Linked DNA regions of Homo sapiens. The protein of the gene in region 1 interacts with the protein of each later gene in a pairwise test. Each region holds a gene or a part of one and is shown on either strand. Other genes may lie near its edges.

The links. Proteins that work in one complex are often made in the same cells at the same time.
Region 2: the proteins of ZNF233 (region 1) and CACNA1A interact in a two-hybrid assay, tested with the Homo sapiens proteins (one study listed by BioGRID and IntAct).

Annotation. Positions count from the first base shown.
Region 1 is NC_000019.10:44,269,163-44,277,022, reverse strand, and holds the end of ZNF233 (zinc finger protein 233), read right to left. Parts: intron 4,125-7,860; coding exon 2,350-4,124; 3' UTR 1,706-2,349; downstream 1-1,705. UniProt on the Homo sapiens protein: May be involved in transcriptional regulation.
Region 2 is NC_000019.10:13,204,978-13,209,479, forward strand, and holds the end of CACNA1A (voltage-dependent P/Q-type calcium channel subunit alpha-1A), read right to left. Parts: coding exon 4,335-4,502; intron 4,033-4,334; coding exon 3,779-4,032; intron 3,077-3,778; coding exon 2,336-3,076; 3' UTR 1,465-2,335; downstream 1-1,464.

The DNA.
Region 1 (7,860 bases):
ATTATAGCTAATCAATAACACAGTAGGGCAACTACAGTTAACAAGAATTTGTTGTATATTTCAAAATAACTAGAAGATTTAGAATGTTCCCAACACAAAGAAATGATAAATGTTTGAGGTGATGCATATCCCAATTACCATGATTTGATCATTACACATTGTATGTGCACAAATCAAAATATCACGTGCATCCCATAAATATATACAACTATTAATATATTAATAAAAACTACTTCACGTGTTTTAGAAAAAAATTAATTTTACTCTGGAAAAATGTATATACTTTAAAAGATTCTCCAGAAGGTTGATGCATGGTTCAAATGGCAAACCATAACCCACAGTACCTCTATGAGTTATTTGTTTAGGTATGATATATTTAGGAAAATGAAAAGTCTCTACATGATTAAGAGCAAAAAGAGGTTCCGAAAATAACTGCTTTAGAAGTGCACAGAAAAGGGAGTGTGTGATATGAGAATGTTAACTGAGCATCTATTCTTTAAGTAAATTTCCTCAGTAGGTTGGAATGAACAAATGTGGGAATCAACTCAACCAGAAGGGCAGAGGTGAGGGAATCACAGAAGAATTGACCCAGAGCCCTGTTTCAACGAGACCTGGTCCTGTCCTACCTGTATTCTTTTTGTTTTTTGTTTTGTCTTGTTTGAGATGGAGTCTCATACCGGCCCCCTGGGCTGGAGGGCAATGGCGCCATCTTGGCTCATGGCAACCTCCGCCTCCCGGGTTCAAGCGATTCTCCTGCTTCAGACTCTTGAGTAGCTGGGATTACAGGCACCACTACCACACCCGACTAATTTTTGTATTTTTAGTAGAGGCTGGGTTTCACCACATTGGCCAGGCTGGTCTCAAACTCCTGACCTGTGATCTGCCCGCCTCGGCCTCCCAAAGTGCTGGGATTACAGGCATAAGCTACCATGCCCAGCCTCTTCTTTTTAAATATGCATACCAATAAATTTTGTTCCAGCTAGTTGGAGTGTGATTTTCCATTTCTCACAATTGAAAACATCTTGATTTAAACAACCATGTGCTCCAGCAGCCCACCCTAGTAATCTGGTGGTGATGAAGCAAAGCATTATTGGCCCTGTATTTCTTTTTTTGTTTTTATCTTTTTTATTTATTTTTTCTTTTTCATTTATTGGCCCTGTATTTCTGATGGTAGCATGAAATGAGGTATCATGGAACTTAAGTATTCATTGTCCTGGAAGGTAAGGTCCAGGACAAAAAAAAAAAAACAACAGTGGGAAACTTTCTCCCACCTCCACTAAATATACACCTGAGTAAACCCTTCATCCAATTACTATGATTTGATCATTACACACTGCATAACGTGTAATGATGTCTGAGAAGTATGGGGTGTTGTCCAAAATGCTGTGTCCTTAACAGCTTAGTTTAACATCTAAAATGCATGCCATATGATATTCCCCTTTTTTGCAAAACCTTTCTCATGAAGCTTTATGGAACTAAAAACCAGTTGGGATTTTTTTCTTCATTCAGTCTGTTTCTATCACACTAGCTCCCAAAAAGAAAGATAGCAAAAGCCCCCGCCAAAGAAACATAGCACAGCTGTACACTGTATGGAAAAAGTCTTAAATAATCAGATAGAAACTTTGGCCTATTATACTGCTTGGAAAATGAAGCTGAACTGAGGACAGAAGCCAATTGCAAAAACATTACTCAGATTGTAGACTGCTTGGTTTTATGTGTTTTAATTAAATGTCATTTCCTTGAATTCATTTTAAGGCTTCTTGCAAGAATCCTTTTCCCAGTACAATTATAATGACGAATTGGGGCTGAGCTCACTAAAATATTCAAATATATGTCCTATATATGATAGATTTTTCCTATCAAGTTAAACAATTCCAGGGAAGCCACTATTTCTTAGGTACTTGTTCAAGGTCACGATCATGCAGCAGTAAACAATGTTCCTGCATGGAGCTTAGATTCTAGTGGACACAGATTTTGTCATGTCCCTCATTATACTTTTGCTAAATTCTGACCTTACTTATCATTTTGAAGGCTTCACTCCTGCATATTGCTTATTGGATGTGAAGGTTCTGATTGAAACATATTGTATCATTCTTTATAGGGTTTCTCTGTTGTGTGTTCTCTTGACAACTGTGACATTTTGGGCTCTGCTTGAAACTGGTCATATTCATACAAAAATAGGTTTTCTTCAATGGAATTCAGATAACTATAAAAACTCAGCTCATGAATTCTTAAAACATGACATTTTATAAATATTCTGTGCTGTGTGGATTTTCTGAGGAAAATGGGAAGTCTAAGTCTTGAAGAGCACCCCTATCACACTCATCATGATTAATAGATTCATCACCATCATGGACTCTCTGATGAATCTGAAGACAACGAACTCTTACTAAAGCCCTTACCACACACAAAACATTTGTATGGTTTCTCTCCAGTATGGACTCTCTGATGGGCTTGAAGATGTGAAGTCTGACTGAAGCTCTTACCACACATGCCACATTTATAGGGTTTCTCTCCCGTGTGGATCCTCTGATGAACATGAAGATATGAGTTCCAGATGAAGCCTTTCCTACATTCTTCACATTTGTATGGTTTCTCTCCTGTGTGGACTCTCTGATGGGCTTGAAGATGTGAACTCCAACTGAAGCCTTTCCCACACACATCACATTTGTAGGGATTCTCTCCAGTATGGACTTGCTGATGGTCTTGGAGATGCGAACTCTGACTAAAGCCCTTCCCACATGTCTCACATTTGTATGGCTTCTCTCCTTTGTGAACTCTCTGATGGGCCTGAAGATGAGAGATCTGACTGAAGTCCTTCCCACATGTGTCACATTTGTAGGGTTTCTCTCCTGTATGGACTCTCTGATGGGCCTGAAGGTGGGAATTACGGCTGAAGTTCTTATCACACACATCACATTTGTAGGGTTTCTCTCCAGTGTGGATTCTCTGATGGGCTTGAAGATTTGAGGCCTTACTGAAGCCCTTATCACATACCTCACATTTATATGGTTTCTCTCCAGTGTGAACTCTCTGGTGAAGACCAGAATTCCTATTAAATATCCTGTCACTTACTTCCCATTTGTATGTCTTGTCTCTAGAGTGACCTCTCTGATGGGCTTGAAGTTGTGATGTCTGACTGAAGCCTTTATCATATACATCACATTTACAGGCTCTCTCTCCAGCACTGTCTACACAGTGAATGTCAAAATCTAAGCTATGATGGAAGCCCTTCCCACACCTGCCACATGTACACAACTTCTCTCCTGGGTGAGTAAGCTCATGAGAGGGAAGACAGGAGTTCTGGTTGGAGCTCCGGGCATATACCTGACATCTGTAGAGGTTCTCTCCTGTGCTGACTCTCTGATGAGGTTGCAGATGTGAGCCCTGACTGAAGCCCTCACCACTGTCACCATTCCTATAGCATTTCTCTCCTATGTGGAAACACTGATGCCTGGGAAGCCCTGAGCTGTAACCTATGCCCTTCCCGTACTCAACATTTACATGAGGCTTGTCTCTTAAGTGTAGTTGCTGGTGAAGTTCAAGATTAGAGCCAACACTTAAGCCTTTTCCATTTTCATCAGAGGTTTGCTCTCCTGATTGGATTATGCTATGCTGGGATGATTCCTTCACACAGTCTTTTCCACAATTATTGTGGCTAAAAGCTTTCTCTCTTTTGTGTACTCCATGATCATCATGTTGATGAGCAATTCTTTGCCTAACACAATGATCACATTTACAGAGCTTATTTTTTACATCAATTTGCTGACACCTACTCTGATAATTCTGTGGTTCTCTCAGATACATTTTCCTCCAGAAATCCCAGGTGGTCCTCAATGGAAGCTCTTGATTTTTTATGCTATTTGAACTCTCCCCTTGTAGCTTTATTACATAGTTCTCATCTTCAGAGACCTGACTAGATTCTCCTGTCCACACCTGACAGGGGGAATCACCTTGTTTTAGCAACTTGGACCTCTTGCCTTGAAGATTTATTATTAGGTCTTGATTACTGGTTAATTTACTTGTAAATTGTTCCCATATTTGCCAGCATATAAGGTCTTCATATGAAAGGAATCTTAATCTTACTTCTTGAAGGGTATCTATCTCATTTTGATTCTTGTGTCCTAGAATGATAAAGAGAACTCAGAAATGAAAATGAAGACAACTGAACATTTGTTCAGAAATAAAAAAACATTTCACAGGTTGACCACATTGGGAAACCTTAATAAACCAGTGGAGAGTTCAGCTTGACTTTATCATTGTTTTTTTTTCTCTTTTTTTGTTTTTTGAGACGGAGTCTCGCTCTGTCACCCAGGCTGGAGTGCAGTGGTGTGCTCTTGGCTCACTGCAAGCTCCACCTCCCGGGTTCATTCCATTCTCCTGCCTCGGCCTCCCGAGTAGCTGGGACTACAGGCGCCTGCCACCATGCCCAGCTCATTTTTTTGTATTTTTAGTACAGACGGGGTTTCACCATGTTAGCCAGGATGGTCTCGATCTCCTGACCTCGTGAACCGCCCGCCTCGGCCTCCCAAAGTGCTGGGATTACAGGTGTGAGCCACCGCACCCAGACTATCATTGGTTTTTTTCATGCCTATGGCAACAAAAAAGGCTGGCTTCTATATACAAAATGTTAATGAGACTCATTTAGAGCTATACCAAGACTTTTTTTTTTTTTTTTTTTTGAGACTGCAGGTTGTACAATGTAACCATGATTCTGAGGCTCACATATAGCCAGGATTTTGTAGATTTTATACATCTGCCATGGAAAAGAGGAGAGGATTTTTTTTTTTTTTTTGAGATGGAGTCTCACTCTCTTGCCCAGGCTGGAGTGTGGTGGCACGATCTTGGCTTACTGAAACCTCCACCTCTGGGGTTCAAGTGATTCTCCTGCCTCAGCCTCTGGAGGAGCTGGGACTACAAGTGCATGCCACCACACCTCATTAATTTTTTTTGTATTTTTAGTAGAGACAGGGTTTCACCATGTTGGCCAGGCTGGTCTTGAACTCCTGACCTCAAGTCATCTGCCTGCCTTGGCCTCCCAAAGTGCTGGGATTACAGGTGTGAGCCACCATGCCTGGCCAATACCAAGACTTATGTATGTGGTCAAATACACAGGCTACAGAGCAACAAAAAGATGCCCTAGAAAGACGTTGTAGAGGAGAAACTTTACCTCCTTGTCCATAAGAATAATCACTTAAAAATCCCTCCTCTTTGGCTGGGTGCGGTGGCTCTCACCTGTAATCCTAGCACTTTGGAAGGCCGAGGCAGGTGGATCACGAGGTCAGGAGATCGAGACCATCCTGGCTAACATGGTGAAACCCCGTCTCTACTAAAAATACAGAAAAATTAGCCAGGCATGGGGGCAGGCGCCTGTAGTCCCGGCTACTCGGGAGGCCAAGGCAGGAGAATGGTGTGAACCCAGGAGGCAGAGCTTGCAGTGAGCGGAGATCGTGCCACTGCACTCAAGCCTGGGCTACAGAGTGAGACTCCGTCTCAAAAAAAAAAAAAAATCCTCTCCTCTTTTCCGTGGCAGATGTATAAAATCTACAAAATCCTGGCTATATGTGAGCCTCAGAATCATGGTTACATTGTACAACCTGCATCTGTATATGATAAAGCCCAAAAATGGTTACAAAAGCCTGAATCTCTCCTTCAGCATTCACAAGTGGATTATTTAGTGATGCCAAGAATTCTCAAAGAAAGAAAGAGGGGACATCCTTGGCAAAAGTGAAGAGAATATAGAAAAATATCTTCTCTGTCTTGAGAATGAACCCATAAGATAGTACCATTATTTCCTTAATTTAGTCCTTAAACATACATTTGATGAGCTAGATTTGAGAGAATTCTCCTTCTTTTCAATGAGGTTCTAAGTATATAATATTCAATTAGTGAACATGATAAATGAAAAAGAATTAGAAAACTTATTCCCATAGCTGACACACCCTATAGGAGTAAAGGCATTGATAATTGTTGCCACTTGGTTTGACTGAATTTTCTGATAAACCTAAATGGCTAATACAAGATGGTCCCCAGTGATCACTCCCCATTGGAATCCATTCCCTTTTGAAGCCCCCTCCCACACTGTATCAAGTTTGGTCTGTGAAACCAATAGAATATGGCAGAAGTGATGATCTGTCACTTCTGATGCTAGGTCATAAAAACACTGTGGCTTCTATCTTCCACTCTCCTGAATCACTGGGTCTGGGAGAAACTAGCTGCCATGTTTTGAGGACACTTCAGCAGCCGTAGGGAATGGTTCACTTAGCAAGGAAGCGAGGCCTCCTGCCACAGCCATGTGAACGAGCCCACCTTGGAAGCAGGTCCTTCAGTCCCAGTCCAGCCTTCCGGGGACGGCAGCTCCGTCACTCTTTAACAGCTTTTTGAGATCCGGAGTGAGAACCCTCACTTAGGGTTAAGCTAAGCTGCTCCCATATACCTAACCCATAGAAACTATAAACCAATGTTCATTGTTTTAAGGTGCTAAGGTTTTTGTTTTGTTTTGAGACGAAGTTCCGCTCTTGTTCCCCAGGCTGGAGTGCAATGGTATGATATCAGCTCATTGCAACCTCTGCCTCCGGGGTTCAAGTGATTCTCCTGCCTCAGCCTCCCCAGTAGTTGGGATTACAGTTGCCTGCCACCACACCTGGCTAATTTTTTTTTTTTTTTTTTTTTTTTTAGTATAGATGGGGTTTCACCATGTTGGCCAGGCTGGTCTCAAACTCCTGACCTCAGGTGATCTGCCTGCCTCAGCCTCCCAAAGTGCTGGGATTACAGGCGTGAGCCACCACAACTGGCCAAGGTGCTAAGTTTCACAGTAATTTGTTATAAAATAATTGATAACTAACACAGGTGTCATAAAAATTATAAGTAGGCTGAACATAACATCAGAAGAGTAACTATGTTCTGAAATAGTCCTTTAGTGACACCTCTTTATTCTCTGCCTGTGAACTCTCTCAATGAGAAGTGAAGACAGTGAGATCCACTTAGCACCATACTCTGTGAGATTTTGTTTCATTGATCCTTGAGGGAGAAGATGCCCTTTAATTTGTACTTCTGTCCAGTGAAAATAGACCTCAGGAATATTTTGTATAGGTGGAGCTGGGTACGTAGGTGGATAAGCAGAATGTGAAACCCTAAAAAATTCTGATGTTTGCCAAAAAATAAAGAGAGGTGAGGGTAGAATACGCTGTCAGATTTGTTCAGTTTTCCAAGGGCTGTGAGTTACATAGTTATATCCTTTTGTCAAAACTCATCAAATTGCACACTTAAGGTGTGCACATGTAAATTTTACCTCAATAAAAAAGAGCTGTAAAACAAGCCATTTTACTTCCTGAAAATTTAGGGAGCTATACATTTACAATTTGTACAGTTTTCTGTATATATTTCAATAAAAAATTGGCCAAAAATTAAAAAAAAAGTAAAGATTTGTGGCCGGGAGCAGTGGCTCATGCCTGTAATCCCAGCACTTTGGGAGGCCAACGTGGGCAGATCACAAGGTCAAGAGATAGAGACCATCCTGGCCAACATGGTGAAACCCCATCTCTACTAAAAATACAAAAATTAGCTGGGTGTGGTGGCATGCGCCTATAGTCCCTGCTACTCGGGAGGCTGAGGCAGGAGAATCGCTTGAACCTGAGAGGCAGAGGTTGCAGCCAGCCAAGATTGCGCCACTGCACTCTAGCCTGGCAACAGAGCGAGACTCCATCTCAAAAAAAGAAAAAAAAAACAAAAACAGTCAAGATTTGCTAAGGAGGCAAAGAAGAAGTTGGGAAGAAGCTACCTGTTAAGAAAAAAAAAAAGGACAATGGCAATAACTGGGATCATAATTCCCAAGTTTTAGGTTTATACACAAAAATGAGG
Region 2 (4,502 bases), about 31 Mb from region 1:
TTTCACTATGTTGGCCAGGCTGGTCTCAAACTCCTGACTTGGTGATCTGCTCACCTTGGCCTCCCAAAGTGCTGGGATTACAGGCGTGAGCCTCTGTACCCAGCCTTAAAAAAAACAAACTTTTTTTTTTAGAGACAGCGTCTTGCTATGTTGCCCAGGCTGGTCTTGAACTACTGGCCTCAAGTGATTCTCCCAAAGTGTTGAGATTACAAGAGTCAGACACCGCACTCGACCTCAAAACTTTGACTTCTCGTTGGACTGATCTTTTCCTAGATGCCATTATTTTATTTATTTATTTTTACTTTTAATTTTTTTAGAGATGGGATCTTTCTACGTCACCCAGGCTGGAATGCAATGGTTATTCACAGGTGTGATCATAGCTGGTCTTGACCTCGTGGGCTCAAGTGATCCTCCTGCCTCAGCCTCCTGAACAGCTGGGACTACAGGTGTGTGCCACCACATTTGGCTTACCATTATTTTAGAAGGACTTACACCTGTCTTGCTATCTGGAGTCTGCAGATTTCTTACCCAAGGTAAGCTCAAGCAGGGCCTGTTGTCTGGAACAAGACCTGTTCAAAATGTTTGCCTTAATGCTACAGTAGTAATGGTGATAGTCAATAGTAGCTTGCTATGGGTCAGGTACTGTTGTGAGAACAGAAGCTCTCAAAGGGGTATTGGACTCTGGGGATGGCTGAAACACTTCGTGGGGGCGGGGGTTGGTGTCCACGAGACCAAATTATTATTATTAATTATCTAAGATGGAGTCTTGCTCTGTCACCCAGGTTGGAGTGCAGTGGCACGATCTTGGTTCACTGCAACCTCCGCCTCCTGGGTTCAAGCAATTCTCCTGCCTCAGCTTCCCGAGTAGCTGGGATTACAGGCACCCACCACCACGCGTGGCTAATTTTTGTATTTGTAGTAAAGACGGCGTTTCACTATGTTGGCCAGGCTGGTTGTGAACTCCTGACCTCATGTGATCCACCCACCTCGGCCTCCCAAAGTGCTGGGATTATAGGCGTGAGCCACCGCGCCCTGCCTTTTTTTTTTTTATTTTGAGACAAGAGTCTCATTCCGTCACTCAGGCTGGAGTGCAGTGGTGGGATCTTGGCTCACTGCTAACCTCCGCCTCTCAGGCTCAGGTGATTCTCATGCCTCAGCCTCCGGAGTAGCTGGGATTACAGTTTGTGCAACCACGCATGGCTAATTTTTTTTGTATTTTTAGTAGAGATGAGGTTTTGCCATGTTGGTCGGGCTGGTCTCGAACTCCTGACCTCAAGTGATCCATCTGCCTTAGCCTCCCAAAGTGCTGGGATTACAGGCGTGCATGATGCCCGGCCTCCTTGTCGCTTTCAAACAGTGCTTCTAGGAGCTAACAAAGAAGTGCCTCTTTGTATGATTCCCCAAGAGAGACCCACCCAGGCAGCACCTAGCCAAGGGACAAAGACCACTCCTATCCAAAAGCCCTTTGATTCAACTTTTTTTTATTTTTTTTTTCTTTTTGAATGTCATGCAATAATTCACAGTCCCAAGCCCACGGTTTTCAAACAAGGTAGGAAAAAAGGAAAAAAGAAGCAAAGGAATCGGTGGTGATGGTGGGTTTTTCTTCTTCTTTTGTTGTTTCAAGCAGGACCAAATGTCAGAAAAAAATGCCTCTTTTCTCAATCATTAATTTTTTTGTCCTTTTTAAAATTGTTTATTGTTATTATTATTTTTTTAAATTGATTTCTGCAGGCAGTAATAGTAGGGTTTGGTATAACCGGCAAGCACTCTTGTGTGTGTCTGAGAACGTGTGTGGGTGTGAGTGTGTCTGGTGGTGGGTGTAGGGCACTGGGATTCTGGTTCCTTCTGGCTTCTTTGCCGCACTCGGCCACCAGCTGTCTTCATCAGGGAAAGGAAAGATTCAATTGAGATGATAAAACTCATCAATAGAAGCTATTTTTTTCTCCCCGTTTTTTCTTTTAAAAATGTTTTTTTTTTTTTTTTTTTTTTTTTTTTTCATGTTCCCCAAAGTTCTCCAAAAATGGCTGAGTTAATTCAAATCCCTTGGCTGTGTGGTTTGTCTGCTCCCTGCCTCCCACCCGAGAGCCCCTGTCGTGGGTGGGGGGATCGGGGCTGGTTGGGGGGCGCCGTGGCTGCCCAGGAGGGTCTCTTTTGGCCGAGGGTCTCTGCGGGACACCCTTGTGGCCCAGCCCTGGCCTCTCCAGAGTCTGGGGTCTCCCGGCTGGCCCTCTCCCGGGCCCTCTGTGCTGGGCCCCCGCGGCCTCTGCGCGGCTCCTCGGGTGGGGTGTGTGCGTGGGGTGCGTGGGGGGCCGGGCGGGCGCCACCTCGCCCGGGCTTAGCACCAATCATCGTCACTCTCGCTGTAGGGTTCGTGCAGGCCCTTCCTGGAGCCCGGCCCGCGGGGCCTGGCCAGTCCGTGCGCCGGGTAGTAGCCGTTGGGGAGTCGCCGGCCGTGCCGAGAAGGCGAGGCGCAGGCCGGGCCCGAGGCCCGGGGAGTCCTGGGCGAGCGCCCGGTGGCGCCCGAGGACGCGTGTCGTACGGGGGGTGGCGCGTCGTAGGCCCCGGCCATGGCCTCCTCGCCGCCCCCGCTGCCCGGGCCATCGGCCTCGTCGTAGTCGGAGCCCCGGTAGTAGCCATGGTGCCGGGGACCCGGGGGCCCCTCGGACACGTGCGGGCCAGATGCCGGCCACCGGGCCCCGCCGTGTCGACAGGCCCTGGGGGACTCGCTCCGGGCCGGGCCTGGGACCCGCCTCTCCATCCTGGGCGAGCGGCCGCTGCTGTGGCCCCCCGTGGGCGGCCGATCTCCGGCCAGAGGCTCGGCCGTGGGGCCTGGGTACCTCCGAGGGCCGCTGGTGGCCGCCCGGCCCGGCCTGGCCACCGCCTGCTGCTGCTGCTGCTGCTGCTGCTGCTGCTGCTGCTGCGGGGGCCCCGAGCCGCCGGCCTTACGGATCACAGGGGAATAGGACACGTGTGGCCGGGGGGTGGAGGGGGTCTGGGGGAGCTGGCGGCGGCCCCGCCGCGGAGTGCTGGTACCAGATGTTGAGGGGGCTGGGCTTCCACTTACGGAACTACTGCCCTACACGAAAATTGAAACAAAGGAAATCAAAAAAAAAGATACAACAAAATCAAAGGAGACACGGGATTGGGAGGAAGAGAGGGGAGCGAAGGGAGAGGGGCCGGGAGGAGAGGGAGGAGGGGGAGGGGGAGGAGGAGGAGGAGGAGGAGAGGGGGGACACAGGACATTGAATGGAAAAAAGCAACAGCCACAGGGAGGAGGGAGGGGAGGAGGGGGAGTGAGACAGGGAGGGGAGGAGTCGAAAACCAACACAACAAAGTGAAAAGAGAAATGAGAAATGGAGTTTTGTAAGTTTCGGGGTTAAAAATAGCAGAAGTTTCAAAAATTACTCACAGGCGTCCAGAGGACAGAAATCATAATTGAAACAAAAACAGAAGCCGGGTTAAAGGAAAGTGAAAGGTCGGGCGGCACGGCCCAGAACTCAAATATGATCCACAACCGAGGAGCAAGCAGCTGCGGGCGGCGGGGAGGGGGCGGCGGGTGGGCAAGGGGGCTGGGGGGACAGCATAGGCAGCTGGTGTGGTGGGGATCCGTGTCCGCTCCGGCCGCCGGGCACCCCGGTGGCTTGGGGGCAGGATGGGAGGTGGTCACAGCCGGGATCCGGGGACCTTTGCCTAGAGTGGCTGTTGGATGGGGTATCCCCTTCTCTCCTCCCCGCCTCCCGGCCGAGCCCAGCCTGGGGTCACTTGCAGCCGCACCCACCTGCCGGTGCGCCATGTGCTCTCGGCCCTCGCTGGGCGAGCGGGACCAGCGCTGGTCCCGAGCCCGTGCCCGGCCGTGGTCCGGCCGTTCCTGGGCATAGCGGTCCTTGTCGGGGGGCGGGGGATGGTGGTGGTGGTGGTGGTGGTGGTGGTGCTGTCGATGCTTCCGATCCTTGGGCCGGCCCCGCTCCTGGTCCCGCTCCTTCGACGGCAGGTCCCCGGATTGGGTGGTCATGCTCAGGTCTGTCCCCAAGCCTGGGCCGGGTGAGGGTCAGACAGACACACAGGTGGTCGTGAGGGAGAGGTGGGGCAGATGCACACACAGGAGGCCACCTGGAAGGTGTGGGGGCCCTAGAGATCCCCTGAACCGAGGCAGGTCAGTGGGTTGGGGGGAGGGGGTAGTACCCAGGTTCCTGCAGCTGCTGCCTGGCCCCCTCTGTCCCCTCTCCATGGAGGCCTCTCCCTTTCTTCTTCCTTAGTGTCTCCTCCGCCCTGCCTTCTCCTCCCCTCTCCTCTCCTCTGTTCTGCTTGTCCCTGAGCACCACAGGGCTGCCCACCTGTGTCCACATCGGTGTAGCGGCCCAGGGAGCGCTCAGAGGCGCGGTGGCTGCGGTCGCGGCGCCGCTGGTGGTGCCGCTGGTTCTCCTCGGGCGGGACCCGCTCCAGCGAGTAATCGTCCAGGCGTCGGGCCTTGGGGCCCAGCACGGAGGCTGAACGCTTCATGG